Homo sapiens: one gene and its partners. The protein of the gene in region 1 interacts with the protein of each later gene in a pairwise test. Each region holds a gene or a part of one and is shown in the gene's direction. Other genes may lie near its edges.

Evidence for each region.
Region 2: the proteins of AGR2 (region 1) and FAM117B interact in binary tests that used the Homo sapiens proteins (3 or more experiments, as listed by UniProt).
Region 3: the proteins of AGR2 (region 1) and NRF1 interact in binary tests that used the Homo sapiens proteins (3 or more experiments, as listed by UniProt).
Region 4: the proteins of AGR2 (region 1) and TFAP2D interact in binary tests that used the Homo sapiens proteins (3 or more experiments, as listed by UniProt).

Annotation. Positions count from the first base shown.
Region 1 is NC_000007.14:16,794,602-16,801,999, reverse strand, and holds part of AGR2 (anterior gradient protein 2 homolog precursor), read left to right. Parts: intron 1-196; 5' UTR 197-203; coding exon 204-342; intron 343-616; coding exon 617-680; intron 681-796; coding exon 797-849; intron 850-2,182; coding exon 2,183-2,256; intron 2,257-4,305; coding exon 4,306-4,369; intron 4,370-6,980; coding exon 6,981-7,064; intron 7,065-7,398. UniProt on the Homo sapiens protein: Required for MUC2 post-transcriptional synthesis and secretion. May play a role in the production of mucus by intestinal cells. Proto-oncogene that may play a role in cell migration, cell differentiation and cell growth. Promotes cell adhesion.
Region 2 is NC_000002.12:202,630,048-202,638,328, forward strand, and holds the start of FAM117B (protein FAM117B), read left to right. Parts: upstream 1-4,921; 5' UTR 4,922-5,140; coding exon 5,141-5,741; intron 5,742-8,281.
Region 3 is NC_000007.14:129,607,190-129,615,092, forward strand, and holds the start of NRF1 (nuclear respiratory factor 1), read left to right. Parts: upstream 1-4,530; 5' UTR 4,531-4,635; intron 4,636-7,903. UniProt on the Homo sapiens protein: Transcription factor that activates the expression of the EIF2S1 (EIF2-alpha) gene. Links the transcriptional modulation of key metabolic genes to cellular growth and development.
Region 4 is NC_000006.12:50,765,268-50,773,008, forward strand, and holds part of TFAP2D (transcription factor AP-2-delta), read left to right. Parts: intron 1-7,377; coding exon 7,378-7,597; 3' UTR 7,598-7,741.

The DNA of each region.
Region 1 (7,398 bases):
TACTCAATTGTAAGTCAAAGACCACCTGTATTCTTAGGAAAATCCCATGGAACAGAGCTATTTACGCCAATCTCGTATGTCCAGTCTCAGCAGAGCCTCAGTTTCTGGTATATTCCACCGTTGTGGGGCAACCTGCAGACCCTGAAGACTGCTAGTTCAATTTTGTTTACTGATTTTGGTTGGTTTTCCATACTAGAGTTGCCATGGAGAAAATTCCAGTGTCAGCATTCTTGCTCCTTGTGGCCCTCTCCTACACTCTGGCCAGAGATACCACAGTCAAACCTGGAGCCAAAAAGGACACAAAGGACTCTCGACCCAAACTGCCCCAGACCCTCTCCAGAGGTAGGAGTCAGCTTCTTGTTGGCTTCCAACTGCTACTTAATTGGAAAAGATTTCCTCTCTCTTGGTGCTTAAACCTGGTTCTAACCTGGTGCCAGGTTATTTTTGGTTGTGTTCCTTCTAGACTTATCACTGTTTATAATTATTTCTACTTTCTCCAGGGGTTTTTCTTCTTCTTTAGTATAGGGTCTATTATCCCAGTCTTTACCATTGCTTTTCAACAGCTTTGGGTCTGAATTTATACAAGCTTCAAATATACTGATTCATTTCATTCTAGGTTGGGGTGACCAACTCATCTGGACTCAGACATATGAAGAAGCTCTATATAAATCCAAGACAAGGTAAAGATCAGGATTACTCAGAGCTCCCTCAAAGCTCTCAAGAGCACCACCTAGTGACATCTAGATATATGTGAAATCTTACTCATTAAAATTTGTCTAATCTCTGTCTTTTAAAGCAACAAACCCTTGATGATTATTCATCACTTGGATGAGTGCCCACACAGTCAAGGTAATTTATTCTTCTAAGTATGATTTCCTTTATAGGCTTTTAGCCTTAGGGCCAGGGTTCAGATCACTCATGTTTGTATCTTTAGAACCACAGTTGCATTAAAGAAAGAATATTTTATATAGTAAAAACATATTTAAAAGTGACTTCAAATATCTCCACATTTTGTGATAACCATTGGTACATATTTTGAAAAACTAGTTTTAGGATTCATCTTCAACTTCTTGATTTCTCTTACAGTCCACATTCAATACACCAGCAAATACTGGCTTTATCTTCAAAATATATCCTTAAACCAGCACCAGCTTCACAGGCATGAAGCCTGTGCCATCTCACAGGGCCCCAAGCTTAGAAGGTTCCCAAACTTGGTTTAAACTTGGCTATCATTGTCTTAAAAGTCTTAGTAATTCTTCAACAAGGGGCTCTACCCTTTCATTTTGCACTGGGCCCAAATCCAACCACTTCCTATTGCCTCCATGCTACTGCCCTGGTCCAAGCCCAGATCAGATCTTGTCTAGACTACCATAACAGTCACCTAACTGGCCACCCTACAGCCAGTCCACACAGAAGCCAGAGTGAGGCTGGTAGACATAAATCAGATTCCATCACTCACGTGCTCAAGTGGCTTCTTATCACAGAACTAAATCCAAATTTCTGATCACAACCTATGAGGCTGACATGATCAGGCCAATGGCTATCTCTCCCTTCCTACCACTCTCCTCTTGCTTTCTTCACTCTCTCCAGCCTGGCCTTCGTGCTGTTCCTCCCACAGGTGAGCTCATTCCCACCTCACAGCTAGTGCTTTTGCAGTTCCCCCTGCCCACAGTGGCCTACCCCAAAATGGACCACTCCCTCACTTCAACGTTAGCTCCTCAGGAAGATCTGCCCTGACCACTCACAGTTTTTAAACCCTTTGCTTTGCTTTATTTTTCTTCAAAGTACATATCTCTACCTGAAAGTATCATCTACTTATTTCTTTGTTTATGGTTTGTCTCCCACACAAGTATGTGAGCTCTGTGAAAAAACACATGCTTTTTTTTGTTCACTGCACCATCCCTAGTACAGAACACAGTGCGTAACACATGGCAGCCATTCAATAAATATGAGCTGGAGAAAAAAATGAATTGATGAATGAATGGATGAATGAGTGAATAGAAAGCAGAGGTAGTCAATGCCATAGATATTACTTCACTAATCATTTGCTAAAAGGCCAAAGTAGAATACTGTATTTAAAATGCAATTCAATAAGTAAATAAAATGCAATTTAACTGAAAATTGAACAAAGCTTTTAACCAATGCTAAGATGGATGCTTAATGATTTTTCTTTATATTATAGCTTTAAAGAAAGTGTTTGCTGAAAATAAAGAAATCCAGAAATTGGCAGAGCAGTTTGTCCTCCTCAATCTGGTTGTAAGTTTCCTTTTCATCATTACTAACATTTCTCTATGGCTCATTACTTGAAATGGATGATTCATTTTTCCTATACATCTTAGTTATACTGCATTAACTGGGATTGCTTCCAAATATCCCATCTCATAAATTAGAGAGAAAAAAGATATTTCGTTGTATTAATAATCCATTTGGTGTGTCTGTTTTTATTTAGTAATTAATCATCTTAGTTTGTCTGAAAAATTATCTCCCGTAGTCAGAATTTTTTCTGTTGCTGGAAGGTTTTTGTTACTTGCTGTGCCTGTCCCTCTATAGTCCTGGCTTCTCTACACCCATTCTTAATCCTGGTCATCTCTTGGGAAGAGACAGCTCTCTGGCTTTCCAACTCTAATCATGCCTCTTGTGCTTTAGCTTCATGCATTCCCACCTTACTTCACCACTACCACCCCTCACGGTGCTCAAGCTTTCTGTCTCGGCAAGTTCTTTTTACTGTATACAAATGTTTCATTTTCCTTCTAAAAGCAAGCCAACAAAAAAATGACTCTACCTAATCATATGTCCTTTTGAGCCCTCCGGCCCTTCCTCTTCACAGGTTGGCTTCCTTAAAGACCACTTCGCACCAGTAGTTCTTCCTTGCCTCTCTTCCATGGGCTCTTCCTCTTCCTCTTCCTACTCCTTAATGTGAGTGACATGATGAATCTCTACTTGACCCTTTTCTCTTTCCATATTTTGTATTCAGTGAACAACTCCATCTACAACTGCCTTTAATCAATTCCGACACACTAATAATTCCTACATCTTACCCAAACATGAAACAACTTCCAAATTGTCTATCCAACCATATTCCAGATATCTCATAATCAGCTTAAACTCAGTATGTTCCTCACTGCACATTAATCATCTTGGTTTGCGCTTTTCCAATAGCTCTTCTTTCTCTATTCCCTATTTTACTGAAAGTGGTACTGTGCTAGATTGGACTCTCCTACTTACCTACAGCATGCAATAAGCCCTGTGCTTCTAAATTCCAAGTATTCCTGCTACTAGTCACTTCTCTATAAACTCAGGACCACTATTTTAGTAAGCCTCTTTCACTTTCCCTAGCTTACTGTAATACTGCTAAATGGCTCCTGGTCTACAAGATAAACTCTGTCTAATCCCACATGGCTGTCAGAGAAGTTGCTTTACAGACCAAACTGGGGTCACAGTGCCTCTTCTAACATCCCTCCAGTGGTTCTTAACTATTTCTGAACAAAGGAAAACACTATGGCATGGTGTGCAAAGTCATTCCTAAGCCGGCCCCTGAAGCAGCTCTAGCACCTTCTTTCGCCACTGCCCTCGTGCATCCCCCCAACTCAGTCCTTCCCCAGCACTTGGCCATAGGAGAAAATGCTCCACCTGTCCTCTCCATACTCTTCCCCCTGCATGAAGTGTCTTTCTTTTCCACCTAACTGACTCCTGTTCATTTGTAAAGATTCCTCCTTATCCACTTCAGAAAGTCCTAGTCGGGGTGGAATCTGCATTCTGGGCTAAATGTCTTGCTCAAGGCAATCACCAAACCTGCATATCCTACACCGTAACATTTCACCCACTGCATCCTCAATATTCATTTTCCTACCTGTATCTCTCAATAGAGTGTGCATTCATTAAAGATAAGCACCATGCCTTGCTAAATACAGTTCTAAATAAAAATTGATAAATGGATAAATGAATACTCAAGAAAATCCCGTACTTGTCTCCGTAATTTCTCTAGAAATGACATCTGCTTTTTTCCTTAATAGCCTCTTATTTCATCCCAGATGTCTTCCCCAAACACAGTAACTCCTTCCAAATTCTCCCTTAATTTTTTTGCTCTTTATCACATCCATTCAGCACTTTATCTCATGTTCTGCTCTATCTTATTTATTATTTCATGCTTGTAACTTGTCTCCTCATCTGTACAATAAACTCTGTGTGGAAGAGTTATGATATCTTGAGATGCCTGGCCGGAAATGGACAGATTCTTGTATTAACAAGTTTGAAAACGACTGAAAAGTCAAAGTAAACTAAAAGATGCTTTTCTTTTTATTTTAGTATGAAACAACTGACAAACACCTTTCTCCTGATGGCCAGTATGTCCCCAGGATTATGTTTGTTGGTAAGCGGAAGTGACAGTGAGATAACTCGGAAACACATACTAGTGCTGCCATCCTCCTTCTCTCCTCCCCACTGTCCCTTGCCACGTTGCCATGGCCAATGTCATCACTAAGCTCTAGCAAGGAGCATGACATTCCTTTAAGTTCCGCAACATATTTTCTTTAGAAAATGTGAGCTTTTACCTATTTCCACACAACACTTTCTTTTCTCACATGCTAATTGTAACTTTTCATCTTCTGCTATAATACTTCTGAGAACAAAGCACCCTATTCACTATTTAAACATATTGATAAATTTCCTGAATACGAGAGGCCTGCAAATATTTATTTTTTAATCCAGCAAACTTTCACTTTGTGTGTTAGATTTTTCTGACATTTTTTATCATTATTTTTAAGAAAGTTAGGAATAAGGCTGGGTGGCTCACGCCTGTAATCCTAGCACTTTGGGAGGCCAAGGCCGGCAGATCACTTGAGGTCAGGAGCTCCAAACCAGCCTGGCCAACAAGGTGAAACCCCATCTCTACTAAAAAATACAAAAAAAAAATTAGCCAGGCGTGGTTGCAGGAGCCTGTAATCCCAGCTACCTGGGAGGCTGAGGCACAAGAATTGCTTGAACCCAAGAGGCAGAGGTTGCAGTGAGCCGAGATGGCACCACTGCACTCCAGCCTGGGCAACAGAGCGAGATTCTGTCTCAAAAAAAAAAAAGGAATATGAGGTGGGAAAAAGAAATGAAAGGAGCCACATGCTCCTTCCTGCCACTGGTACTTTTCATATGCTTTCCCCACTTCCTTCTCTGTCCCCCAATTTCACATCATTAACTCCCCAATCATCATTATTCATTGACCGAGTCAAATCCCTACTATGTGCTCTTGTAGTCATACTTTCCTCAGGTATAATTTTGCAGTTTGGGGGTGGTTATGTAATAAATATTTCCCACATTGGACTATAAGCCCCTATGGCAGGGACTGTACCTATTTCTGCTCACCATGATATTCCCAACGTGACCCTGCAGTAGGCTCTCCATCAATATGTGTTTAATTATTGAATGAATGTACTGAGTTTGGCTTTGTTCAAAGTCATACTGATTTAAGGACAATCCATAATGAAATCCATCACTTACAACAATTCATGCTAATCATATGATTCACCTGTGTAATTCATTAAAAGTTTACACTGAATGTACAAAGCAGGGAAAAGAAAAACAAGAAATAGAAAAAAAGGAAGAAGGCTGAACTAAAGCACTAATTTTATAGGTTTAGTTTTGTCAGAATTTAGGACATTTGGAATCCTAACATTAAAAGGGAATTTATAGATGTCTGTTCATACCTTGTACAGGAATTCTTTGTACAGCATCCCTGTGGAAGGGCATTTTAACCCACATTCAATTCCTTCAGTCCTAAGAACCAGCTCCAAGGCAGCTTGCTCTTCTAGCTCCGTAGTAGCCACCCTGACTACATGTTTGAATCACCTGGAGGATTTTAAAGATCAAGTTGCCCAGGCCACACCTCAAACCAATTAAATCAGAATCTCTGGGGGTGGGAGGCAGGCATCCATAGTGTTTACAGCTCTCCAGATGATTCCAATGTGCAGCCAGGTGAGCTGCTAGTTGGGTATTTAAAAAGCCCTTCTTAGGTTAATTTCTTACAAAGATTAGACCGTGTCTTTGTATCCTCTGCACCAAACAGAAGTATAGTTGGTCTTAAATCTGGTGAATAAATGTACATCTGCTTCTTGTAATTTATGTGTCTGGCCTTAGTCCAACATTCTGAAATGACAGATTGCCCACTCCAGTACCAGCGACAGACTTTGCAAACATGCAGATGGTTCTCACATGTCTTCCTTGTCTCATTTTCAGGGCACGTGTCCTAGGTTCTTTCGATTACGTCTCTCAAGGCAAGGTTTCCAGATCTCTCTGTATCCTCACGCTTCCCTTTTGGATGCACCTTAATTTTAAAATACCTCTTTTTCTCATTAATTAGATCACTTCAAGTTAAATACAAAACATGGCAAGATGGATTTAAATTTAGAGGGATATAAGTATACATAAGAGAAGACCAATCTCTACTTTTAAAAATGCAGTTAATTAACAATAAAGTAAAATATAGTGAAGGTACTATATGCTTATTTGAACTTTGCTGTTGTTAAGGACTTGCATTCCTCTATTAACTTTTTTTAAAAAACTCGTTTTGAAAACTAGCATTGGATGTGGGTTTCCAATGATCTAGAAACATGTAAACTACAACATAATCGTTTCAAGAATTTAAAATAATTTTGCAGTAGAGAATGTTAATGTTTTCACCAAAAAAAAAAAAAACACCATGTCACCCCTAAATATATATTATTCTGTTTTCAGGTTGCCATAGATAGAACAGAAGGGTTCATAACCTTTTCCACAAATAGCACTGCACAGCTGTTGATGTTTCCAGCCCTGCATTTGCTACTAACTGCCAGGGGCTGGGTAGTAGAGTGGATGGATCAGAGCTCCTGTGAGTGCAGACACACTCCATTCCCTCACAGGACATGAATACATGAACTTCAGCTCCCCGGGGCAATAAATACAGGTTGTTTGAAAACAAACCATTCCATTCCCTTTTGCTTCATTTATCTTTGCAGACCCATCTCTGACAGTTAGAGCCGATATCACTGGAAGATATTCAAATCGTCTCTATGCTTACGAACCTGCAGATACAGCTCTGTGTAAGTGTGACCTTCAATTCGGATGTTGCCCAAGAGTTGAACACCTCTATTGCTGTAGTGATGGGACTAGAGGCTGCATGGTGAGGTGAGAGAGAGCTAGGCTTAGGGACGCCTCGGACTCAGTTTGACCCTAACTAGCCTTGCATCTTCAGGCAAATCACACTCTTTCCATCTCAGGTTTGTTTGTTTTTAATCTCAATTGAAGATGAATTATTTAGATTAGGTATCTTTTTCTCTAGGAGGATTCTATGACCACATTACCTGATTTTCAGGTTTTCTGTTAGGTACACGAGCACACACTCCTTCTATCACAGAACTGAGTGTAATAATTGTA
Region 2 (8,281 bases), on another chromosome or scaffold:
CTACACCCTCAAACTCCTGGGCTCAGAGGATCCTTCCACCTCAGCCTCCTAAGGAGCTAGGACTACAGGTGCGTGTCACCACACCTGGCTAAAACATATGTGTATATATATATGTGTGTGTGTGTATATATATATGTATGTATTTTTTTTTTCTGGGTGACAGAGTCTCACTCTGTTGCCCAAGCTGGAGTGCCGTGGTATGATCTCAGCTCACTGCAACCTCTACCTCCTGAGTTCAAGCGATTCTCGTGCCTCAGCCTTCCGAGTAGCTGGGATTACAGGTGTGCGCCACCATGCTTGGCTAATTTTTGTATTTTTAGTAGAGAGGGAGTTTTGCCATGTTGGCCAGGCTGGTCTCAAACTCCTGGCCTCAAGTGATCCATTTGCCTTGGTCTCTCAAAGTGCTGGGATTACAGGTGTGAGCCATTGCACCAGGCCCTAATTTTAAAAGTTTCTGTAGAGATGGAGTCTTGTTATGTTACTCAGGCTGGTCTCAAACTCTTGGGCTCAAGCAATCCTCCCAACTCGGCCTCCCAAAGTGCTGGGATTACAAGTGTGAACCACTGTGCCTGGCTTTATTTTCTTTCTTTTTTGAGGCAGGGTCTCACTCTGTCACCCAGGCTGGAGTGCAGTGGTGTGTTCACGGCTCACTGCAGCCTTGACCTCCCAGGTTCAGGTGATGCTCCCATCTCAGCCTCCCGAGTAGCTGATACTACAGGTATGCACTACCATGTACAGCTAATTTTAAAATTTTTTGTAGAGATAGGGTTTTGCCATGTTGCCCAGGCTGGTCTTGAACTCCTGGGCTCAAGGCATCTGCCCACCTAGGCCTTCCAAAGTGCTGGGACTATAGGCACTGTGCCTGTCCTCAGGCCTCTATTTTCATGTCAGTATTTTATAAAAGGTGTATGCCTTTTATACGATTAATTATTATAATTACAATGGATGCATACTTTTGATTTTTTTCATTTAAAGTGAAAGGAATTTGTGATTTCATAATTACCATTTTGATGGCTGTATAATGTTCCTTCAATGACATTTTAGAGGTCTGTAAGTGGATACAGCTGATTCTAGAATAACTAAAGGAAGAAAAGAAACCACTACAGGACAATAAACTTTTTCATAAAACCCATCTTCTTTTACCACAGCAGGATCATTGTAGAGTTAAGCAAGCACAGGAGCAAATGAGCCTATCAATAATTTTGTCTTTTGAAGTTTAAATACAGACAAACCAATTCCAATATGTTGCTTTTTGTCTACAATTTTATGTAGTCACGTTTCAACCTCGGAGAGAAAATGAGAAAATTTGAATTATATCCTAAGAAGAGCAGGGTTAAACTAGAGGGAGATACGTTTATTTTGTTGATCCTTGAAATACAAGGACTCTCTTTGTAGATAAACCAGCAAACTAAAAACCAATACATCACCTTGATGCACATTGTTTTCTTTGAATCTTCAACAATAGATAATGAAGTCAAGAGTAAATGATGCTTTTATTCATTGCCATTAAATCTTAAAAACAGACTGAAGAGCTCTAAGTTATCGAAGCAAGTTTTTCTCTTCTTTTTTAGCATTCTTTAATAATTTAATACTTTTTTAAAAATTATTTTTATTTTTTTGAAACAGTGTCTCACTCTGTCTCCCAAGCTGGAGTACAGTGGCATGATCTTGGCTCACTGCAACCTCTGCCTCCTGGGCTCAAGCGATCCTCCTACCTCAGCCTCCCAAATAGCTGGGACTACAGGCATGCACCAGCTAATTTTTGTAGATACGTGGTTTCACCTTGTTGGCCAGGCTGGTCTTGAACCCCTGAGCTCAATGATCCCCCGGCCTTGGCCTTCCAAGGTGCTGGGATCACAGGCATGAGCCACAGTGCCCTGCCAAATTTCATGGTTTCAAAGCTTTGATTTACAAGTCATCACAAATATCCTTTAGTACAAAGGGTGCTGAAGTGGTTAATTACCTGCTTTAATTGAAGTGCTCTCATTTGTTTAAAGTTAAGCCCTACACTGATGAGTGAGGTAAGCTATCAAATAAGATGAAAACAAATTTCCTGGAACTGTAGGTTTGAGTTTCTGTAGGAAACATAACTAGAAGCAAAAGGCGAAATGGCTCCATCAGATCTCATGACTGAGCCAAGGACATTTTTTTAAGCTCTTTGATCTAGTGAAATCAGTTGATTTAATGAAATCTAATAAGATCTGCTGAAATCAGTTCTTCAGCTCAGGCAAGCTAAAAGCCTCTTGCCACCAACAAAGATGTCTCTAGTTTGGTGATATCCAAATCAATTGATCAGGAAGCTAAGGACACCAGGGCTGCAGGACTTCCTTTGGATTAATTCAGTAAATATGTATTGAGGTCCTACTTTGTGCAAGACAAAATACCACATACCACATACAGCCTCCATGAGTTATTTATTTCAGAGTCTGGCTCTGTCGTCCAGGCTGCAGTGCAGTGGCGAGATCTCCGTTCACTGCAGCCTCTGACTTCCGGGTTTCAAGCTATTCTCTTGCCTCAGCCTCCTGAGTAGCTGGGATTATAGGCATGTGCCATCATGCCTGGCTAATTTTGTATTTTTAGTAGAGACAGGGTTTCGCCATGTTGGCCAGGCTGATCTCGAACACCTGACCTCAAGTGATCTGCCTTGGCCTCCCAAAGTGCTGGGATTACATCCTTATTTAAAGGCATATCTTGTCTATCCATGCTTTTCAGACCAGACTTGGCTCTTTGCATGGATCCTGCTGGCAGTTTCCTGTATGTTCCTATCCAGTGAGAAGCTGTTTTTGGCCTCACACCAGGCTGTAGGGGCCAGATAGTGACGTCAGATCTATCCAGAGCACCAGCCAACTTAAGGCAGGTTCCTGGGCTAAGGGGCTGGGGCTTTCTCTGTGGAGGGGGAGAGAGGAGGAGAAAGGGGAATGGATGGTAAGGAGAGATGTGGGTCTCTGAATCACATGGAGACTCTGGAAGTGCTGACCATCTTCTACACACCACATTCTCATATCATCCTTGGTTAATAATCATAACAACAGTATGAAGCACATGGTACTGTTTAACTGCATTTTACAGATAAGGAGACTGGCTAGTGATCCACTCAAGGTCACAGAGTAAGTGGTGGTCATGGGATTTTAATTTCCTCTCTAGGTCTTTTTTTTTTAATTTTTTTTTTTTTTAAGACAGAGTTTCGCTCTTGTTGCCCAGGCTGGAGTGCAATGGAACGATCTCGGCTCCTTCCAACCTCTGCCTCCCGGGTTCAAGCGATTCTCCTGCCTCAGCCTCCCGAGTAGCTGAGATTACAGGCATGTGCCACCACGCCCGGCTAATTTTGTATTTTTAGTAGAGACGGGGTTTCCTCCATGTTGGTCAAGCTGGTCTCGAACTCCCGACCTCAGGTGATCCGCCCGCCTCAGCCTCTCAAAGTGCTGGGATTACAGGCATGAGCCACCACACCCGGCCTCCTCTCTAGGTCTTTAAAAGCCTTCCACCTCACGCCTGTAATTCCAGCATTTTTGGAGGCCGAGGTGGGCGGATCATGAGATCAAGAGATCAAGACCACCCTGGCCAACATGGTGAAACCGCCTCTTTACTAAAAACAGAAAAATTACGGGGCGTGGCGGCACGCGCCTGTAATCCCAGCTACTTGGGAGGCGGAGGCAGGAGAATTGCTTGAACGCGGGAGGCGGAGGTTGCACTGAGCCGAGATTCGAGCCAGTGCACTCCGCCACTGCACTCCAGCCTAGGTGACAGAGAGAGACTTCTTCTCAAAAAAAAAAAAAAAAGGCCTTCCACCACCGCGCAAAGGGACCCAGTAGGATTTCAGGTCCAGAGTGAATCATACTATGCCCTCCACTCCCACATTTTTACACGACGAAATCTGTCTAGCATGTACAACTAATAAAAATAGTAGAGGGAAAAGAGGTCATGGATAGGCAATTTATAGCCAGACAGGTGGGAGTGTAGGTTTTGGCTCCACCATTTTTTATTTTCTTGATGAGGAGCCCTTTAGGTCATTTTAGAAATAGTGTCACTGCCTGCCTTCCCGAGTCTTTGCCACACCAAAGACTTGTTTCCTCCGCTAGACAAAAATATGGATGGCTGTCCCAGTTCTGTCTCAAACAATGATCGTGTAGAATCAAATAAGGCCCTCTGTAAACTATAGCACTTTACAAACTGGTAAGGTAGCAGCCATCCTTCCAAGGTATCAGGGAACAGCGAAGCAGCTGATTAAAATAGTCTTGATTACTTGAGATACAGGAGGGTAGGAATAACATGTGGTAACTGAACTCTATAGATACTATCTAAAATCGCATTCTAACAGGCAAGTTTAATCTTTCTGAGATTTGCCTCTTTGTAGAGCTCTAAAAAATAAAAGGAGAGGGGCGTAAAATGCCAGTAAGATTAGTTAAATTTCTTCTCCTTTTGAGCCCTGCCCATAGGTAGATGGAATTAGGGCAGAACAAAAACATTAAGAATAAAAGCCCGAACGAGATGCGCGTACAGGTGAACACAAGTGAACACTGGGGTAAGGAAATGAGTTATGCGGAAAAGGCTTCAGACCATCCCTGGGAACTGCTCCGGGTCTGGACATTTCCTTTGGCAACCTTCCAGAGTCTGAGTCCCCAGGGCTCCCCCCGGCGGGAAAGGAAAGGCGCGCGTGGCTAGGCGCGCGCGTACACGGGCACTCACGTGTACACACACACGCGCGCACACTACACATACACACAGGGCCCATTTCCTCCGCTCCCTCCCCGCGGGGGGCGGGTCTCTTTCTCTTTAAAGAGCAGACGGTCTCCGCGCACACCCAGGCTCTCAAGGCCTCGGGGGCCCGGGACCCGAGCTGCTCGTAGCCAATGGGAGCAGTGGAGCGGCTCGAGCGCGGCTGACGCTGCACCAATGGGCGATCGTGGGGGGCGGGGGCAGCAGAGGAGACACTATTGTTGATGAGGAGCGGCGGCGGCGGCGGCGGCGGCTGCACCACCTCGTTGCTGCCTGCCCCGGCCCGGTCTCCCCCTGCACCCCGGAGTCCGGCTTCGTCACCCCGTCTTGGGGGGCCTGCCCTCCGGCCTCGAGAATCCTCCCCCTGCAGCCCAACAACAACAAAACCCCCCGTCTCGCCCAGTCACCGGGGAGGGGGGGGACCATGTCCCAGCGGGTGAGGCGCAATGGGTCCCCCACGCCGGCCGGCTCCCTTGGGGGTGGTGCGGTGGCCACGGCCGGGGGACCCGGGAGCCGCTTGCAGCCCATGAGGGCGACGGTTCCGTTCCAGCTGAAGCAGCAGCAGCAGCAGCAACATGGCAGCCCCACGCGGAGCGGCGGCGGCGGCGGCGGCAACAACAACGGTGGCTGCTGTGGTGGCGCCTCAGGCCCCGCAGGCGGCGGCGGCGGCGGTGGCCCGCGCACCGCCTCGCGCAGCACCAGCCCCACGCGCGGCGGCGGGAACGCGGCCGCGCGCACCAGCCCCACGGTGGCCACGCAGACGGGCGCGTCCGCGACGTCCACGCGAGGCACCAGCCCCACGCGCAGCGCCGCGCCTGGAGCTCGCGGGAGCCCCCCACGGCCGCCGCCGCCGCCGCCGCTGCTGGGCACCGTGTCGTCGCCCAGCTCGTCGCCCACCCACCTGTGGACCGGCGAGGTGAGCGCGGCCCCACCCCCAGCCCGCGTCCGGCATCGGAGGAGGTCTCCGGAGCAGAGCCGAAGCTCGCCGGAGAAGAGGAGCCCCAGCGCCCCGGTTTGCAAAGCAGGTAAGTGCTGGGGGTCGCGCAGCAAGGGGGAGGCGGCTGCGGGAAGGGGTCCCGGGCGCGCGCTGCAATCGCGCGGGGACTGCAGAGCTGCCGCGGAGCCCGGGTGGCTGGGGGCGGGGCTGGGGGCGGTGCCGGGCGGTGGGGGACCCGGCAGTGCGGCCCCGCCTTTCCCGGGCCTACCCTACGCCCCGCCCGCCCGCCCGCCTCATTCACCCCTCTGCCCGCCCCGCACGGCTCCCTGGTGGTGGAGGTGCAGCGGCTAAACCTTGGGCTTGAGCTGATGAGTGTTAATGATAAACCTGGCTTCCTGGCCTTACTCCTGGAGGAGTCGTTACTGCTTACCCTCCCTTGAGGGTGAGGCTAGGAGTGGTTTGTCACTTTGTTTTAGGGACAAGGTTAATGTTGGCATAGCCCATATCTGCTGCTGCTAAGTATTTCTGTTCACAAAACAGTTTCAGATCTGGGGTACTGAATGCATTAGCAGTGGCAGATTTGGATCACTGAACAGAGGAGGCTGAGAACCGTGTTTTAGCATTTCCTAAGACTTGATAAATGGGTAGCAAGAAGTGAAAATTAAACAAGATTCCTTAGGAAGGTTTATGGGTTTTGTCTGAGGCTCTGGGTGTATTTCTGATTTTGTGTACTGATTCTGTGTTTTGAATGTAGAAAAACAGAATCCAGTGTTTTGTCTCCATCTTGTTATTGTTTTAGGGAGCTAACATTCGTTGTTTTTCTGTTTACCTGGAAGCTTTCTTGGGGAAGGTCCTGAATGGAGCTGTTGGGTGCCAATGGAGTCATTCATAAAGAGTAACTCAAAAGAGAAATTCAAATTGTGGGAAGTGGAAAGGAATAAAATTTATAATCTTGTTGCCTTAAGGAAAGAAATGGGTGGTTTTTACTTACGTATTCATTTTTGTCAACATATATCTTTGTCTTTCCTTGTCTGGGGAACTTCTGTTAGAATTTTCCAGGCAGAATGGTTGGGAATTTCAGGAAACAAATTCAGATGAAATAGTTTCCGAAATGGAAGGAATAGGATGACTCTTTCTTACTATTTATTTTATGAAAGTTTTAGATAATACTTATTTAGAGAGAATTGCCCTGGAAAATGATGAATAGTATTTTCTTTTTTTGAGACAGAGTTTCTGTTGCCCAGGCTGGAGTGCAGTTACACGATCTCGGCTTACTGCAGCCTCCAACTCCCGGGTTCAAACGATTCTGCCTCAGTCTCCTGAGTAGCTGGGATTACAGGCGACCGCCACCATGCCCGGCTAATTTTTGTATTTTTAGTAGAGACAGGGTTTCACCATGTTGGCCAGGCTGGTCTCGAACTCCTGACCTCAGGTGAAACGCCCGCCTTGGCTTCCCAGAATGCTGGGATTACAGGCATGCGCCACTGCGCCCGGCCCGAATAGTGTTTTCTAATTAGAACCAGAGCACTGTTTTATTTATGTATTTATTTTTATTTATATTTTTATTTATTTTTTGAGACGGAGTCTTGCTCAGCTGCCCAGGCTGGAGTGCAGTTATGTGATCTCGGCTCACTGCAACCATGGTCTCCTGGGTTCAAGCGATTCTCCTATCTCAGCCTCCCGAGTAGCTGGGATTACAGGCACCCGCCATCATGCCCGGCTAATTTTTGTATTTTAGTAGAGATGGGGTTTCACCATGTTTGCCAGGATGGTTTGGAACTCCTGACCTTATGTGATCTGCCCGCCTTGGCCTCCCAAAGTGCTAGGATTGCCCAGCCCAGAGCACTATTTTAAACCTTTTGAGAATGCAGAATGCTTTTCTAAAACTGTGATAAAAGTACTAGATTTCCCCTCCCTGCTTCATAACCTCTGTCACCTACTGAACTCTTACTATTTGGCAGGTGGTTTTTATGCAAAATCTCATTTAACCCTCACTATAGCTTTTAGAGAGGTTAAGTAACAAGTGGCAGAGTTGGTATTTATTTGAACTTTGGTCAGTTGTACTCCAAAGACCATGTCTTTATATTATATCAAGGAAGTGACATCATGATGTGTAAGATAGAATGTGGGAAATATATAGCACACCAAAATTACATGTACTTAGTTAGGTAACTTTTTTTTTTTTTTTTTTTTTAAGATGGAGTCTCACTCTGTCACCTAGGCTGGAGTGCAATGGGGCAATCTTGGCTCACTGCAACCTCTGCCTCCCGGGTTCAAGCGATGCTCCTGCCTCAGCCTCCCGAGTAGCTGGGATTACAGGCATGCGCTACCACGCCTGGCTAATTTTGTGTTTTTAGTAGATACAGGGTTTCTCCACATTCGTCAGGCTGGTCTCAAGCTCCCAACCTCAGGTGACCTGCCGACCTCGGCCTCCCCAAAGTGCTGGGATTACAGGCATGAGCTACCGCGCCCAGCCACTAGTTAAGTAACTCTTACAGATATGAACAAAACTGCTTCAGTCCTTCAGCCTTCTGGAGCCAGCATAGTGCATCAGGTGGAAGGGAAGGAGCTGGCTTATAAGTGGGCAGTAGAGGTGGCAGAAGGAGGCACAGCCTGTAGTCTGATAAC
Region 3 (7,903 bases), about 110 Mb from region 1:
CTTTGTTGGCGTTCTTCTTTTCATTTCTTCCAGCCATCTCCAACCTGTTAGGGAGTTTAGGAAATTGTTCAAAGACTGATTAATAAGATGGTATGGAGAGGATGTTTGGTTGGGGATGTGGGAATGTCTGAATCCTGTCTTGGCCAGCCATCTCTACTCATCAGGAGTGTGGGGAGTACATGTGCAATGACACACCAGGGAAAGGAACACTTTATTATTAGCTGGGTATGAACCACAATGCAGAAGTCAGGAAAGATAGGCTGGATTCTGGTCATCTCTGTCTATCCTCCCCACATCAATGCCCAAATTTGAGTCTTGGAACTTTTCTTCCGAGTGGGATAGAGGCACACTAACCAGAAAAAGTAGAGAGAAAGACAAATCCACAGCCTCTTTGCCCCAAGCCCGGGGCCTTGCTAAGACTTTTTCTGTGGGCCATAGCCTTAGGGCCTGGCTACCTTGTGGGAGAGGGAAAGAGAACAAGCTGGCTGGGCTGCCTCTGAGAAAGGCAAGGGCAGCCCTTGTTACCACTCAGAGTATGTTGAAGAACGGGAAAGACGCAGCACTTTCTGTTGAACGTGTTATCTTTTAAGGGCTCCATCCCAAGAAAATGTTATTCCATATTCTCCAATTTTAGTAAGATTTTCTTCCTTTGTGTGTGTTTGGTGGTGGGGAGATGAAATTTCTTCACCATCCTACCTCCACCTTGGGGGAAGGAAGAGGGTGGGGAGGGAGAAGCCTTGAGCGCCCTCTAGAGACCAGAAGCCCAACTCACTCCCTGGTGAATCTACACTCCTATGACCTTAGTGCTTAGCTCAAAATTGTCAACTGTCTATTGCCTACTAAGAACCAGTTCCTTGGCAGGCATGGTGGCTCAGGCCTGTAATCCCAGCACTTTGGGAGGCCGAGGTGGGTGGGTCACCTGAGGTCAGGGGTTCGAGACCAGCCTGGGCAACATGGTGAAACCCCGTCTCTACTAAAAACACAAAATTAGCCGGGCGTGGTGGCGCATGCCTGTAGTCCCAGCTATTTGAGAGGCTGAGGCAGGAGAATCGCTTGAACCCGGGAGGCGGAGGTTGCAGTGAGCCAAGATCGCACCATTGCACTCCAACCTGGGCAACAAGAGCGAAACCTCATCTCAAAAAAAAAACAAAAAAACACAATTTCTAAGGAGGCCATTAGAACCCTCTACAGTCTGGCTCAAGGCACCTTTTTTGGTCATTAGAATGACTTTAGGATAGTAGCAGATAGGGAAAGCACAGAAAAATGAATGCCAAATTTAATCATCCAGCGAACAGACTGGCTGGATCTAATCAAGAGGGGAAGGAACCTGGGTGAGGTTACCAGAATTTCACCTACTTCATAACCAAATCAACAGATCCAACAAGAATTAAATAAGGCATCACGGGAATCTAATCTGTAGGGAAGGGTGTGGGGAGACCCTTGTGGAAACAGCATCTATGTGAAAGGGACTTGATGTGTTCACAGTGGTAGCAGAAGAATCTCTGTGTCTTGACTCTTAGCCAAAAATCTCCAGCCAAAACACAGCCTCCCCTGTTCTCCTGCAAAGGTAAGCCCAGTCCGTTTGGGGCAGTAACCTCAGTTTGCTCAGAATGGTAAATGTCATTTAATCCTAAGAAGGTTCTGCATTAAAGATGAGGATAGTAAAATAAATCAGATCTGCAGTATTCATACTTTTGTGTTAACCTTGGTAATATTTTGTTTAATTTTGTATTTTCAATGTTTGTAAGATTTAGTATTTATCATATTAGAGAATCTGACAAGTTTCACGAAACAAGAGCCTTACTAAGTTTGATGTTCTCTGCCATTTTCTATTTCTTTAATGAAATGTTGGTAATGACCCACTAAGTTACTTATGTGTTTCATCAGTGGGTACTGGCCTGAGACCCTGATAATGGTTAAAAGTACAACTCTGAGGTCAGGCTGATGACTTTCAGATCTAGCTTATTGTCTGGGTTTGGGCAAGTAACCCCTATATGTCCTTGTTTCTTCATCTGTAAAATGGGATAATATTAGTAACTACCCAGGCCGGGCACAGTTGCACACCTGTAATCCCTGCACTTTAGGAGGCTAAGGTAGAACGGCTTGAGCCCAGGAGTTGGAGACCAGCCTGGGCAACAGGCATCTGCCTGTGGTCCCAGCTACTCAGGAGGCTGAGATGGGAGGATTGCTTGAGCCCAGGATGAGACTGCAGTGAGCTGTGTTTGCGCCACTGTATTCCAGTCTGGGAGATACAGTGAGACCCTGTCTCAAAAGTTAAAAAAAAGGTAGTACCTACCTTGTGGGCTCTACTTGATAATTAAATGAGAAAGAAGATAATGTGCATAAAGGCTTCCACTAGGGCCTGACGCATCGTGAGCGCTCAATAAACGTGGGGAGTACTGGGTGTGATGACAAAGGGTCTAATGCACCCAATCTTGGGAGATGAAAAAATGCTGCCTGGAGGCGATGGTATTAATGTTGGGATCTGAAAGAATGGTAAGAATTATTCAGGTGAGGATTCAAGTAAGTGCATAGATGGTGTAGAGAGAAATGAAGTTATGGGCAAAGGGAACAGCCCTTGCAACAGTTGTGAGGTGGCACAATTTCCAGGCTTAAATGACCTGAGAGCTTCCCAGTTTTGAGTGTAGCCTGAGAAATATCTGTGGCAGATGAGGTCAGAGATGGCAACAGGGATGAGATCACCAATGGCCCTGTAGCCACCTCAAAGAATTTTAGACTTTATCCTACGTGTTAATCAGATCTTTTTAAGAGTCTTAAACAGGGAAAAAACATGATTTTCTTTCTTGAAAGACCATTCAAGCTGTAGTGGATTTGGAGAGGGCAATTTCGGTGGCAGGGAGACCAAGAGGAGTCTACCGCAGTGTCTCTAGGAGAGATGACAGTAGCCTGAACCAGAGTAAGAACTGACAGGGAACAACAGTTTTAAAAATCTAATTGGGGCTGGGTGCAGTGGCTCACGGCTGTAATCCCAGCACTTTGGGAGGTTAAGGCAGGCAGATCACTTGAGCCTAGGAGTTCGAGACCAGCCCGGGCCAACAAGATGAAACCTCATCTCTACTAAAAATACAAAAATTAGCCGGGCGTGGTGGTGGGGACCTGTAGTCCCAGCTACTGGGGAGGCTGAGGTGGGAGGATCCTTGAGCCCAGAGAGGTCGAGGCTGCAGTGAACAATGATTGCACCACTGCCCTCCAGCCTAGGTAATAGAGTGAGAATCTGTCTCACAAACAAACACATCTAATTTAACATGGGGACTCCAGAGACAGAGGAAAGAGTAATGGATCATTTCCAGGTTTCTGGCTTGAGCACTTGGGTGGCTAGTGTTGGCACTCTCCTAGAAAACACTGGAGAAAAAGACATTCAATTTTTGGATATGTTGAATTTTGAGGTTAATAGAATCTTGAAAATTAAAGCTTCCTGATTTTGTTAATCCGTTTTCTGACACCCTTTAGCAATTCTTCAATGCAATGCTTTTCACATTATTATATGCATAAGAATCACCAGGGGTGTGGAGATGGGGATGTGAAAATGCAGGTTCCTAGGCAAACAAGCCAAGATTCTGGATACCAACTGGGTCCCAGGACTCAAAACAATCAGCCTGAGTAATTCTGATGGAGGGAGTCTCCTGACGACACTAAAAAAACAACAAAAACGACCCCTCTGCCGGGCATGGTGTCCTGTAATACCAGCACTTTGGGAGGCTGAGTCGGGAGGATCGCTTGGGCCCAGGAGTTCGAGACCAGCCTAGGCAACATAGGGTGACCACCCACCCCCGTTTCTAAAAGTAAAAAAAGACCCCTCGTGTGTCTCCACCGTTAGGTTGTTTTCCCACTGTCCACCCCTCCCTACTTCTCAGGCACCTGCTTGGGGGCCCCTATTGCTTCGAATAAGCTCCGTGGGAGCCAGGACTTTGTCTTGCTAACAGGTGCATCTTCAGCGCACTCAGAACAATATCTGGCACAGCACGAGACACCTAGAAATGTTCGCCGAACGATCGAATGGCTGAATACATTCATATGTTGCTTTGTACAAAAACTTGCTTTCAAATATCTGGGAAGAGTTAGAGATAGGAAAGCAGAGGTCATTTCAAAGAGAGAGAGTGAGGATACCACCGGGAAGGCAGCGCCGAAAAAACCAGAGGGGAACCACTTGCCGATCCCCCAGGCACAGTCTGGAGGTCCCAATTCCCGCGGTAGGGGGGCGAGAGATGCCACTCGTCTGATCAGCAACCATTTTGGGCCCGCTTGCGCCGCTTCTCCGGGGCGTCCGCGTTGTGCTCATCCAGTTGCTTTTGAGGTTCCGGCCCCCTCCAAACCTCTGAAGCGCTCCGTGCACGCGACGCGGCGGCGGGGTAAGCTGGAGCCCTCGCCGCGAGCCCTCTCCGCTGCCTGCCCGCAGCACAGCCGCGCCGACCTCCTCATCATGGCGGCGGCCGGGCGGGGAAGCCGGGCCGTGCGTCGCGTGCGTGCCCTCTCCCTCCCCTCCCCCTCCTCGGCGGCGGCGGCGGCGGCAGAAGCGGCAGCGCTCGCCATTGCCGCTGGTGGCAGGAGGCTGCGAGGAGCCGGCGCGGTCGCAGTCTCCACGGCGCAGGCCCACGGTAGCGCAGCCGCTCTGAGGTGAGTGCCCTACCGCGCAATCTCCAGCTATTTCAGCCCCGGCGCAGCCGCAACACGCCGCCCGCCCGCCGGCCGGCCGGCCCGCCCCGCAGCCGGCACCCTGCCGCCCCCGGCTCTGGGCCTGGGCCCCCGCCGGATTCGGCCCGCCTCGGGCGGGGGGCCCCGGCCCGGCCCAGCCAAACCGCCACCCCGAGGATGCGCAGGCCGCACTAGGCCCCAGGCGTCCTGGCGGGCTCGGGAGGGAGGCGCTGCCCTCCCGAGAGCCCCAGGGTTCCGGCCTCCTCCGCCGCCTGGGGCTCTCGGGGCCGCGGCCTTCTCCCCGCCGTGGAACCCGGGGCCCGGCCTTCCCGCAGCTCGGGAGCGGGAGGCGCGGGAGAGTGCGCCGGGCCCGGGAGCGGGAGGTGGGCGGGCTGCGCGGGACCGGAGCCGCGGCTCTCGGCTCGCCCCCTCGGCCCTTCCCGGCTCTCGTACGCGGGCGGGCGGGCGGGCGGCGCGGTGGGGCCGGGCTGGGGCGCGGGAGCCGCTGTCTCCTGCGGGAGAGGAGGCTGGCTCTTTGGGCGACCTCCGAAGCTTCCCTCCTGCCGGGGTGGCGTGGGCTTGTTACCCAGGTAGACTGGGGGACGCTGGAATATGGCGCGTTGCCCACCTTCTTGCAAGTTAGGAGGTGGCCGGGGCGGCAGTTCGAGGAGGAGGGCGCAAAGTCCTTTTGTACGCAGAAATAAGGAGCGACATTGTGTTTTCTTCCCCAGCTGAGATGTGCCCGCGGAGGGGCCGCGGTTCTTCCTGTGCCTGGGGTGGTGGTCCCCTGGGTGAGGGAGAGGGGGAGTGGCACGCCCCTCCGAAGGAACAGAACCTTTTGCCACTGGAAAGACAGGGGCTCTGAGATGGCCGTGTGCATGGTATTTTCCCATATCCCCAGACCTTTTCGGGTTTGTCATTGAATGTTGTGCACTCCATCGTGCAATGATGTCTGCTGCCTCTCTCACCTGTTGTGTCGTGGCTGCTGGTCCCAAAGTTTCTGCAGTGTATTTGGCTGTGCCCACCAGAACTTGAAGTTGTTTAAAAATCTTAATACTTGGGGGGCTTCCAGTGATATCTGCTCCAACCAGTTGGAGGAGCTGTTGCCTGCTCTCCATTCTTCTTAAGCATTAGATTAGAATATATTAATTGCTTATTTTAGAGCTGGTGTCAATCGTGCTGATTTCTTTATGTGGTCAGAGCAAAATTCACATTTTTTTAAGTGTTCAGAGACTGCGTATTGAGAGACGCATAAGGAGAAAGGTAGTGTGAGTGAGCCTGTCAGCTTGGGCAGTGTTGGGCAGAGCTTTTGTCCCGGGACATCATCTGTGCTCACAGTGATCCTTTTTCCCATTCCATCTCAGCCTAGCCTTTTAAAAAATTATTTTTCCTTTGGGCTTGACCAGTAAGTAATTGGGAAAGGGGGGTGCTGGAGTCTTGGAGATGCTGTTTGTGTGTGTGTGTGTGTTTGATTCATTAGTATCCCGACTCCCTAAAATTGTATTTGACAGTTCTTGACAGGTTACCCCGTAAGACAGTGAAAATATGACTAGTTCTCTCCGTGCATCTGAGTGTAATTTCCTTATTTTATGAGTCCGAAAGCAGACATAATTATCACATGCAATGTAGAATATTTATTCTTAACTTGGATCCTAAATTGTGGGCAGAATTTTTTTGTGTCAAGGGGTTTTTTTTTCTTTTGATAGGACTTAGTGGCTTTCAACAGGGCCCATGACCAAAAAAAACAATAATCAGATTAAGAAAACTCTTTACGGCCGGGTGCGGTGGCTCACACCTGTAATCCCAGCACTTTGGGAGGCCGAGGCGGGGTGGATCACCTGAGGTCAGGAGTTCGAGACCAGCCTGGCCAACATGGTGAAAGCCCATCTCTGTTAAAAATACAAAAATTAGCTGGGCGTGGTGGCAGGCGCCAGTAATCCCAGCTGCTGGGAGGGGCGGGGGCGGGGGCTGCCGAGGCAAGAGAATCGCTTGAACCTGGGAGGCAGAAGTTGCAGTGAGCCGAGATGGAGATCGCGCCATTGCACTCCAGCCCGGGGGACAAGAGCGAGACTTCATCTAAAAAAACAAAAACAAAAACTCTACTTAATCTTTTGGCCCATCCTTATTTGAAGTCCTTTAATTTCCTCACACAGCCTCAAACTCGACATATAGGAGGGAAAATGACTTTTTGCTTAGTAGTCAGTGGTCATAGTCTCCTGTAACAAAGAAAAGTTCTTATCCCCAAGTCGGCAATTTTTGTGGAAATAGTTCTCTTTTTCTTTTTCTTTTCTTAGACGGAGTCTCACTCTGTCACCCAGGCTGGAGTGCAGTGGTGCGATCTCGGCTCACTGCAACATCTGCCTCCTGGGTTCAAGCGATTCTTCGGCCTCAGCCTCCCGAGTAGCTGGGATTACAGGCGTGGGCCACCATGCCCGGCTAATTTTTGTATTTTTAGTAGAGACGGGGTTTTGGCGTGTTGGCCAGGCTGGTCTCGAACTTCTGACCTAAGGTGATCTGCTGGGCTTGGCCTCCGAAAGTGCTGGGATTACAGGCATGAGCCAATGCGCCTGGCCCAATAATTTTCTTATAAAAATATGTATTTGTGTGTGTGTGTGTGTGTGTGTACATACATATATATAATTTTTTTTTTTAAGTTAGAGATGGGGATCTTGCTATGTTGCCTAAGCTGGCCTTGAACTCCTGGGCTCAAGGAATGCACCCACCTCAGCCTCCCCAGTAGCTGAGACTATAGGCAAGTGCCACCGTGCTGGCAGTGGCTTCATAACATGTTTCAAGGAAATTTAGCTCCTGTGTTAAGAGAAGGAGCTATAGAAGTAGAAGATAATGAGGGCCCTTGTCCAGATATAGAAGGTTTAAAGGAGAAAGGATTTCAGGTTTCCTTCTGAATTCCTGTGTATGTCGTTAGGACCCCAAATTGTAGGTTTTTTGTTTTATTAAACGATAATTATGCACTTGTCTAATTTTGTTAGGGAACCGAAGGCCAACTTCCCATGATTTAAATACCTGAATTTGCATTGCCTGCACACTGTAGGTTCAACCAAATCTCTGGGTTGTCTTTAGAAGCATTTTATGTAAATAATCACGAATGAGTGACTTGTTTTAAGGGAAATTTAAGCTCCTGTGGTCTGGGATTAAATTTTTATGCCTTTTCTTGTATGGAATAAGGCATTCAGTAAAGTTGAAGAATAATAACAATGAACAGTAATTACTGAAATTAAAATTTTTCCCT
Region 4 (7,741 bases), on another chromosome or scaffold:
TTATGGCTAAATAATTTTATATACATCTTGACTATTAGAAATAATGCTGCAATGAACATGGAGTTTAGATATCTCTTTCAGATACTGGTTTCATTTCCTTTAGATATATAACCAGAAATGGGATTGCAGGATCATGTTGTCATTCTAATGTTTAAGTTTTTGAGGAACTTTCATAGTGTTTTGCATAATGGCTGCGCCAGTTTGCTTTTCCACCAACAGTGTGCAGGGTTAACTTTTATCTACACCCTCACCACCACTTATTTCTCAGCTTTTTGAAAATAGCCATCCTAACAAATGTGAAGTGATATCTCATTGTAGTTTTAATTTGTGTATCACTGATTAGTGATGTTTAGCATCTGTTCATATACTTACTATCCATTTGTATGTCATCTTTGGAAAACTGTATGTTTGTGTCCTAAGCCCATTTTTAATATCAGGTTATTTGTTTTTTTTTTCCTATTGAGTTGCATGAGCTCCTTATATATTTTAGATACTAATTTTTGTACCAAATGTATGGTTTGCTAATATTTTCTCCCATTCCATGGGTTGCCTTTTCATTTTGTGATTGTTGCCTTTACTGTGCAGAAGTGTTTTTCATTTGACCTAATCCCATTTCCCTATTTTTGGTTTTGTTGCCTGTGCTTTAGGTGTCATGTCCAAAAAATAAAGCCAAGACCAATGCCAAAAATATTTTTCCTTCTAGGAGCTTTATAGTTTTGGTCTTTTATTATGTTTCAGTTTTTAATCAATTTCAAGTTCATTTCTGTGTATGGTGTATGGTGTAAGATAAGGATCCAATTTTACTTTTTTGCATGTGGATACTCAGTTTTTCTAGAACCATTTATTGAAGAGACCATCCTTTTCCCATTGTGTATTCATTAAGATCTTGTCAAAGATTAGCTTACTACATATATGAGGGTTTGTTTCTAGACTCGTTCTGTTCCATTGGTCTATGTGTCTGTTTTTATGCCAGTACTATACTGTTTTGATTACTATAGCTTTGTAATATAATCTGAAATCAGTAGCATGATATTTTCATCTTTGTTCTTGTTTCTCAAGATTGCTTTGGCTATTTAGGGTCTTTCATGGTTCCCAATGAATTTTAGTGTTGTTTTTCCTATTTGTGTGAAAATGCTGTTTAAATTTTGGTAGGGGTTGCACTGAATCCATAGATTGGTTTTAGTATGGACATTTAAAAAAATTAATGCTTCCAATCCATGAACACAGGTTATCGCTTTCCATTCATTCGTGCCTTCTTTAATTTCTTTCATTAGTGTCTTATAATTGTTAGTATACAGATCTTTAATCCTCTGTGGTTAAATTTATTCCTAAGTATTTTATTCTTTTTGATACTATTTATTCCTTTTGATACCATGAGATTGCTTTCTTTTTTTTTTTTTTTTTTTTTTTTTGAGACGGAGTCTCGCTCTGTCGCCCAGGCCGGACTGCGGACTGCAGTGGCGCAATCTCGGCTCACTGCAAGCTCCGCTTCCCGGGTTCACGCCATTCTCCTGCCTCAGCCTCCCGAGTAGCTGGGACTACAGGTGCCCGCCACCGCGCCTGGCTAATTTTTTGTATTTTTAGTAGAGATGGGGTTTCACCTTGTTAGCCAGGATGGTCTCGATCTCCTGACCTCATGATCCACCCGCCTCGGCCTCCCAAAGTGCTGGGATTACAGGCGTGAGCCACCGTGCCCGGCCTGCTTTCTTAATTTCTTTCTTAATTTTTCACATAGTTCACTGGTACTGCTTAGAAATGCAACTGATTTTTGTATCATGCAACTTTATTGAATTCATTTATTATAACAGTTTTTCACAGAGTCTTCAGGATTTTCTAAAATCATATCATCTGCAAACAGAAACAATTGAACTTTTTCCTTTCTGATTTGGATGCTTTTTATTTCTTTCTGTTGCCTAATAGTTCTGTCTAGGACTGCCAGTACTATGTAAAATAGTAATAAAAGTGGTAAGAGTGGGCACCGTCTTCTTGTTCCTGATCTTAGAAGAAAAGTTTTCAGCTTTTCACTATTGAGTATGATGTTAGCTGTAGGCTTGTCATATATGGTCTTTATTATGTTGAGGAACATGATTTACCACTTGTAGTAAAAATCTGATATACCTGGATTGTCAGTTTTGCTCTGATGCTACCAATGTTATTCCCATTCCTCTTCCTCACTTTGTGACAGAGAGTTTAGCCTCACCTGTTTTCTTCCCATTGTCCCCTCTGTGCTATAGTTTTACATTTGTTTGGGGATTGTTACTTCTTTCTCCCAGGAATTTTATTTAAGTCCTCTCATCACTTTGGCAAGTTTCTATCCTTTGGAAGTAACACACCTGTTTTTCAGGCATGAGGAAACTAATCCCTTTTTCATCAGTATCATCAAAGAAATTGTGAGTTTCTTTGAGTGGAATTTCAATTGGCTGAGAGAGGGAGGACACACAAACACACAGAAATAGGAATAACGGTCATGTTTGGGTATTAAAAAGAGATAAGCTTGAGATAAACTTTGCAAAAATAAGGTAATAGAGCACGTGATTACATAGGGTGAAGGAAGGCAACCTAGGAAACATTAAGAAAACTGATATGACCTGTGAATCCTCTATAGTCACTGTTCTTTTACAAATGTAGCATAGACATGACTTATCTAACACAATGCAAGTTGTCTCCAGGGCCTCATTGAGGATAGAGTTTTAGAATTTAGAATTTAAGTAACTTCTATATTTTGACTGCCTATTTCAAACCATCATGGGCCATTTAACCCTGGTGATATTTGCATGTGAAATGCGCTCTCATCAGTAATCTGGTGAAATTATATGCAAATGCCAAGGGTAACTTAAATATCAAACCTGTAACTGAAAAATATTTTCCAAAGTTGAAAATCATCTCTATTGTCAAAGAGTTTGAAGATTTGACTATAGTTCGTTACCTTGCAGGTGACCTTAGTCTTATTTTTTTTTTTTTTTTCCTGTCTAGGATCAAAAGTCAGACCTTCTATTTCTAATTTTCTTTTTTTTTTTTTTTTGGAGATTCTACATTATTCCTCTCTCCTTTTCTTTTTTCTCTCCCTTTTTTTTTTTTTCTTTTGAGATAGAGACTTGCTTTGTTGCCCAGCCTGGAGTGCAATGGTGCAATCGTAGCTCTTTGTACTCTCAGGTTCCTGGGCTTAAGTGATCCTGCCACATTGGCATCTCAAGGCTCTGAGATTACAGGCATGAGCCACTGAACCCAGCCCCCTCCTTTTCTGTATGTCACTGTGAATGAGATACACACCTATTTTTCTGGATGACTGGGGCTAAAAGAATAGCATGATGTTCCCAGAACTTTTTAAAACATACTGTGATTGCACACTTCTTTTTACATTATTGTAGTACATTAGATTACTTTAATTATTTGGGGTTCATAAATTTCACTGAAAACTGCTAGAAAAGAATCTTTGCCTTACATTTATTATCATTCTGTGCAGTGTGCTATGCATATTTTTAATATGCAGGTAATGTTAAATTAGGTAATTAACAAAATTTACATAATGTTTTTCATATTGAAAGATGACCTTTCAGGTCATGAAAGTCAAAATGACTTTTTTTTATATTGAATATCCTTCAATTGATTTTAGAGTTCTTTGTTGAACGAAGTGGCTTTTTTTTTTTTTTTTTGAGACAAAGTCTCCCTCTGTTGCCCAGGCTGGAATGCAATAGCACGATCTTGCCTCTGCCTCCTGGGTTCAAGCGGTTCTCCTGCCTCAGCCTCCTGAGTAGCTGGGATTACAGGCATGCACCACCACACCCGGCTAATTTTTTTTTTGTATTTTTAGTAGAGACAGGGTTTCACCAGTTGCTCAGGCTGGTCTCAAACTCCTGACCTTGTGGTCTACCTGCCTTGGCCTCCCAAAGTGCTGGGATTACAGGCATGAGCCACTGCGCCCAGCCCTGAAGTGGTTTTTCAACTTCCATAACCTGTGTCCATGTCCTTGATTTTAATAACACCATAAAGATGTTATACTCTTAAATTGAAGCTTAGAGTTGGAAAGAACCTAGCAGATGTTCTTGTTAGACTACTGTCATTTTACAAGGCTAAATAACTTCCTCCAAATCACGAAGTGCCTGACGTCAAAGCCAGTGTGAGGACTTGGTACACTTGGTTCTCAATCCAAGGCAAAGATGACAATGCAGACTGCTAATGATCAGATCCATATTTTGGAACAAGAAAGCCCATCAGTCAAGAAGTGATACCAGCTTAAGAGGAATCTTTAAATATGGAAACAGCTCTTTTCTCAAAGTGGATAATAAAAGCATTTATATATAACTACCTACCTGTGCTTGATTTTTAAAAACCCTGCTCTTAGGCAGGAAAGTGAGTAAAAAGCATCTGATTTTACCAGCCATCAAGGCTGCCCAAGTACAAAGTTAAGTCAGAGGAACTGAGCTAAAACTGCCCACAGAAAATGTGATTTCTCAGAGAAAAATGTACCCTCAGCCTGGGAGGAACATAAGTACAGAATATCCAATTTCTCAGGCAAATTATTTAACTTCTCTGGGACTCAGTTCTTCGTCTGTAAAATGGAAATAATATTATCTAGTTCTTAGTGTTGTAACTAGAATTATATGAAGTGATACAGATAAAAAACTTAGAACAGGACTTGACATATGTTCAGAACTCAAAAATTAGATATTAACTTCAATAATACCCTGTGAAACTAAATAATATTGTATATTCTGCTATAGATGAAGAGGTGAGTCACAACAAAGAGGACATGCCAATATAGAAGAAAATTTAAAAAGGAGCTCTAAACAGGAATAAAACATGAGAAAAGAGACAGTTTGTGCCTGGGGTCAAATATCTGGACATTAATGGTTGGCTTTACCCAGTTCTTTTTGTGGGTATCACCATGATTAATTCTTCCACCACTCCAACAATTCCATTTGTTGTCCAAGATCCCAGATAGATTTCAAATTATTTGGCTTCCCCTCTAGTTGTCTCATTGTAGAAATAGAGCTTAAATTATTTTTCCTGTTTGGCAATGCAAGACCTTGTAGCAGAGGTGTGGATATAGTAGTTGAGCAGTGATGATGTCTTACACCACAAACTTTGGTGCAGATAATTGCCCAAGCATTGGCCATTGTTGTTTCCCACATAATCAGAGATGGGAATTTTTTTTTCTTTTTAATATATGTTAACTATGATGGAGGCTCAGGGAAGAAAGATGGTAACAACCTATGGAATAATGAGGGACATGCAGAAATTTTACCCTCTACCCAGAAAATATACCCAGCCAACAATCTCTATCATTTATCTAAGACTTTGTTTAGATCTGCATCCTTCTGAGCCCTTTGCGTAGACTAATAAAAACAACAACCCCACATGGTAGATCTTACTATTACCTCCACTGAGGCATATTAATAGGCTGCCTTAAACCCCAAATCCTTCATTTGTATTATTATAAAATATTATTATTTTTGCTGTTAAAGATTATGTAACTTAAGAAAGAAAACTATAGGTAGCTAAAATATTATGAAGGGTGGTATATCTGATTCAAAAACTACTAATGTCATAATAACAGTTACAAGCTAGGACTTTAGCAGTTAATGGCTTTATTAAATGTACTATACACATATGCACAATGTTGTATATATATATATATTATAACATGGGCATACTATGTGACAAGGATGTTTTTCTATATTATTATGAGACGTAGGAAGCAAACTGGTAGTGTCACTTCGGGACAGTTAACATAAGTGAACAATCTGGGTAGCTTCTGTTCACAAGAAGACTAAATCTACAGTTATGTGTTTGTTCAACCAAAGATGACATTTGTCGTGGTTGGAAGAACTACCTATGCTGAGGTTACCATAACATTCCTTATATTTGCTTATTAGTTTTTGTTATTAGTTAATTAGTTAGTTTTCGGGACCTAAATGTTGGGTGGCTTACATAAGACAGGGTTTTATTTCTCTCTCATTTAGGAGTCTGGAGATGAATAGGTTCCTTCTAACTTGTTTTGTCCCTGCCACCTAAGCGATTATCTACATAGGGCATAGCTACCCTTTTAAGCAAGTGGGAATTGCATGTATCACTTCTCTTTATGTTACATTGTGGGTAGGTTAAGTCCCATGTCCAAAACTCACTGCAAAAGAAGCTTGGAAATGTAGTCTCCAGCTGGATGGCCATATGCCCAGATTAAAGTGCATTACTATGGAAAAGGAGAATGAAGTCAGAGGGACAGCTAGCCATGAGGCACACTCAGCCAATTATGATTTCTTCATGTGTAGTCTATGCCATATATGCCATTCTTGAAAGCAAGATGTTTCCACACATAGAATCTAAAGGTGTGTTTTCCAGCTACTTCTTAATGAGGTGGAGAATCAAGTCATGTGTTAAATATTTAGACTTGGTAATAATTAGTGCGTATCAATCAAAACCACAATGAGATACCATCTCACACCACTTAGAATGGCGATCATTAAAAAGGAAACAACAGGTGCTGGACAGGATGTGGAGAAATAGGAATATTTTTACACTGTTGGGGGGACTGTAAACTAGTTCAACCATTGTGGAAGTCAGTGTGGCGATTCCTCAGGGATCTAGAACTAGAAATACCACTTGACCCAGCCATCCTATTACTGGGTATATACCCAAAGGATTATAAATCATGCTGCTATAACGACACATGCACACGTATGTTTATTGCGGCACTATTCACAATAGCAAAGACTTGGAACCAACCCAAATGTCCATCAATGATAGACTGGATTAAGAAAATGTGGCACATATACACCATGGAATACTATGCAGCCATAAAAAATGATGAGTTCATGTCCTTTCTAGGGACATGGATGAAGCTGGAAACCATCATTCTGAGCAAACTATCGCAAGGACAAAAAACCAAACACTGCATGTTCTCACTCATAGGTGGGAATTGAACAATGAGAACACTTGGACACAGGAAGGGGAACTCACACACCGGGGCCTGTCATGGGGTGGGCGGAGGGGGGAGGGATAGCATTAGGAGATACATCTAACGTAAATGATGAGTTAATGGGTGCAGCACACCAAGCTGGCACATGTATACATATGTAACAAACCTGCACGTTGTGCACATGTACCCTAGAACTTAAAGTATAATAAAATATATATATAAATAATAATTAGTGCATATCAACTCTATTAACGACAAGTCTTCCAAACTGGTCCTACATTTCTTACATAGTCAAGAGCAATACCTTCAACTGTGTTGTATCTTCCACAATGCTTAGCATCATTTAGGAACACAATGAATACCTGTTTAATTGAATGTTCTGAATTATATGGAGAGATTTGCTATTTCACATGATACTGCAAATCATTCACCTCTTTTTTCCTATCACTTCTCATTTCCAGTTTGATCACTCATGGCTTTGGGACTCCGGCAATATGTGCAGCTCTAAGCACTTTCCAAACAGTTCTCAGTGAAATGCTGAACTACTTGGAAAAACACACTACTCACAAGAACGGCGGAGCGGCGGATTCTGGCCAAGGACATGCCAACTCGGAGAAAGCTCCCCTGCGGAAAACTTCAGAGGCTGCCGTGAAAGAGGGCAAAACAGAAAAGACAGACTAGCTACATCAAACAGAATCTATTTCCAGAGAGTCTTGCTGCTGATATTTTTTCTAATATATATATCATTGAGGGTGACTAATCTTCAGTGGACCAAATCTCTACCCTTCCCCAACCCTCCATAAAAAAACAAAAATGGAAATGAAA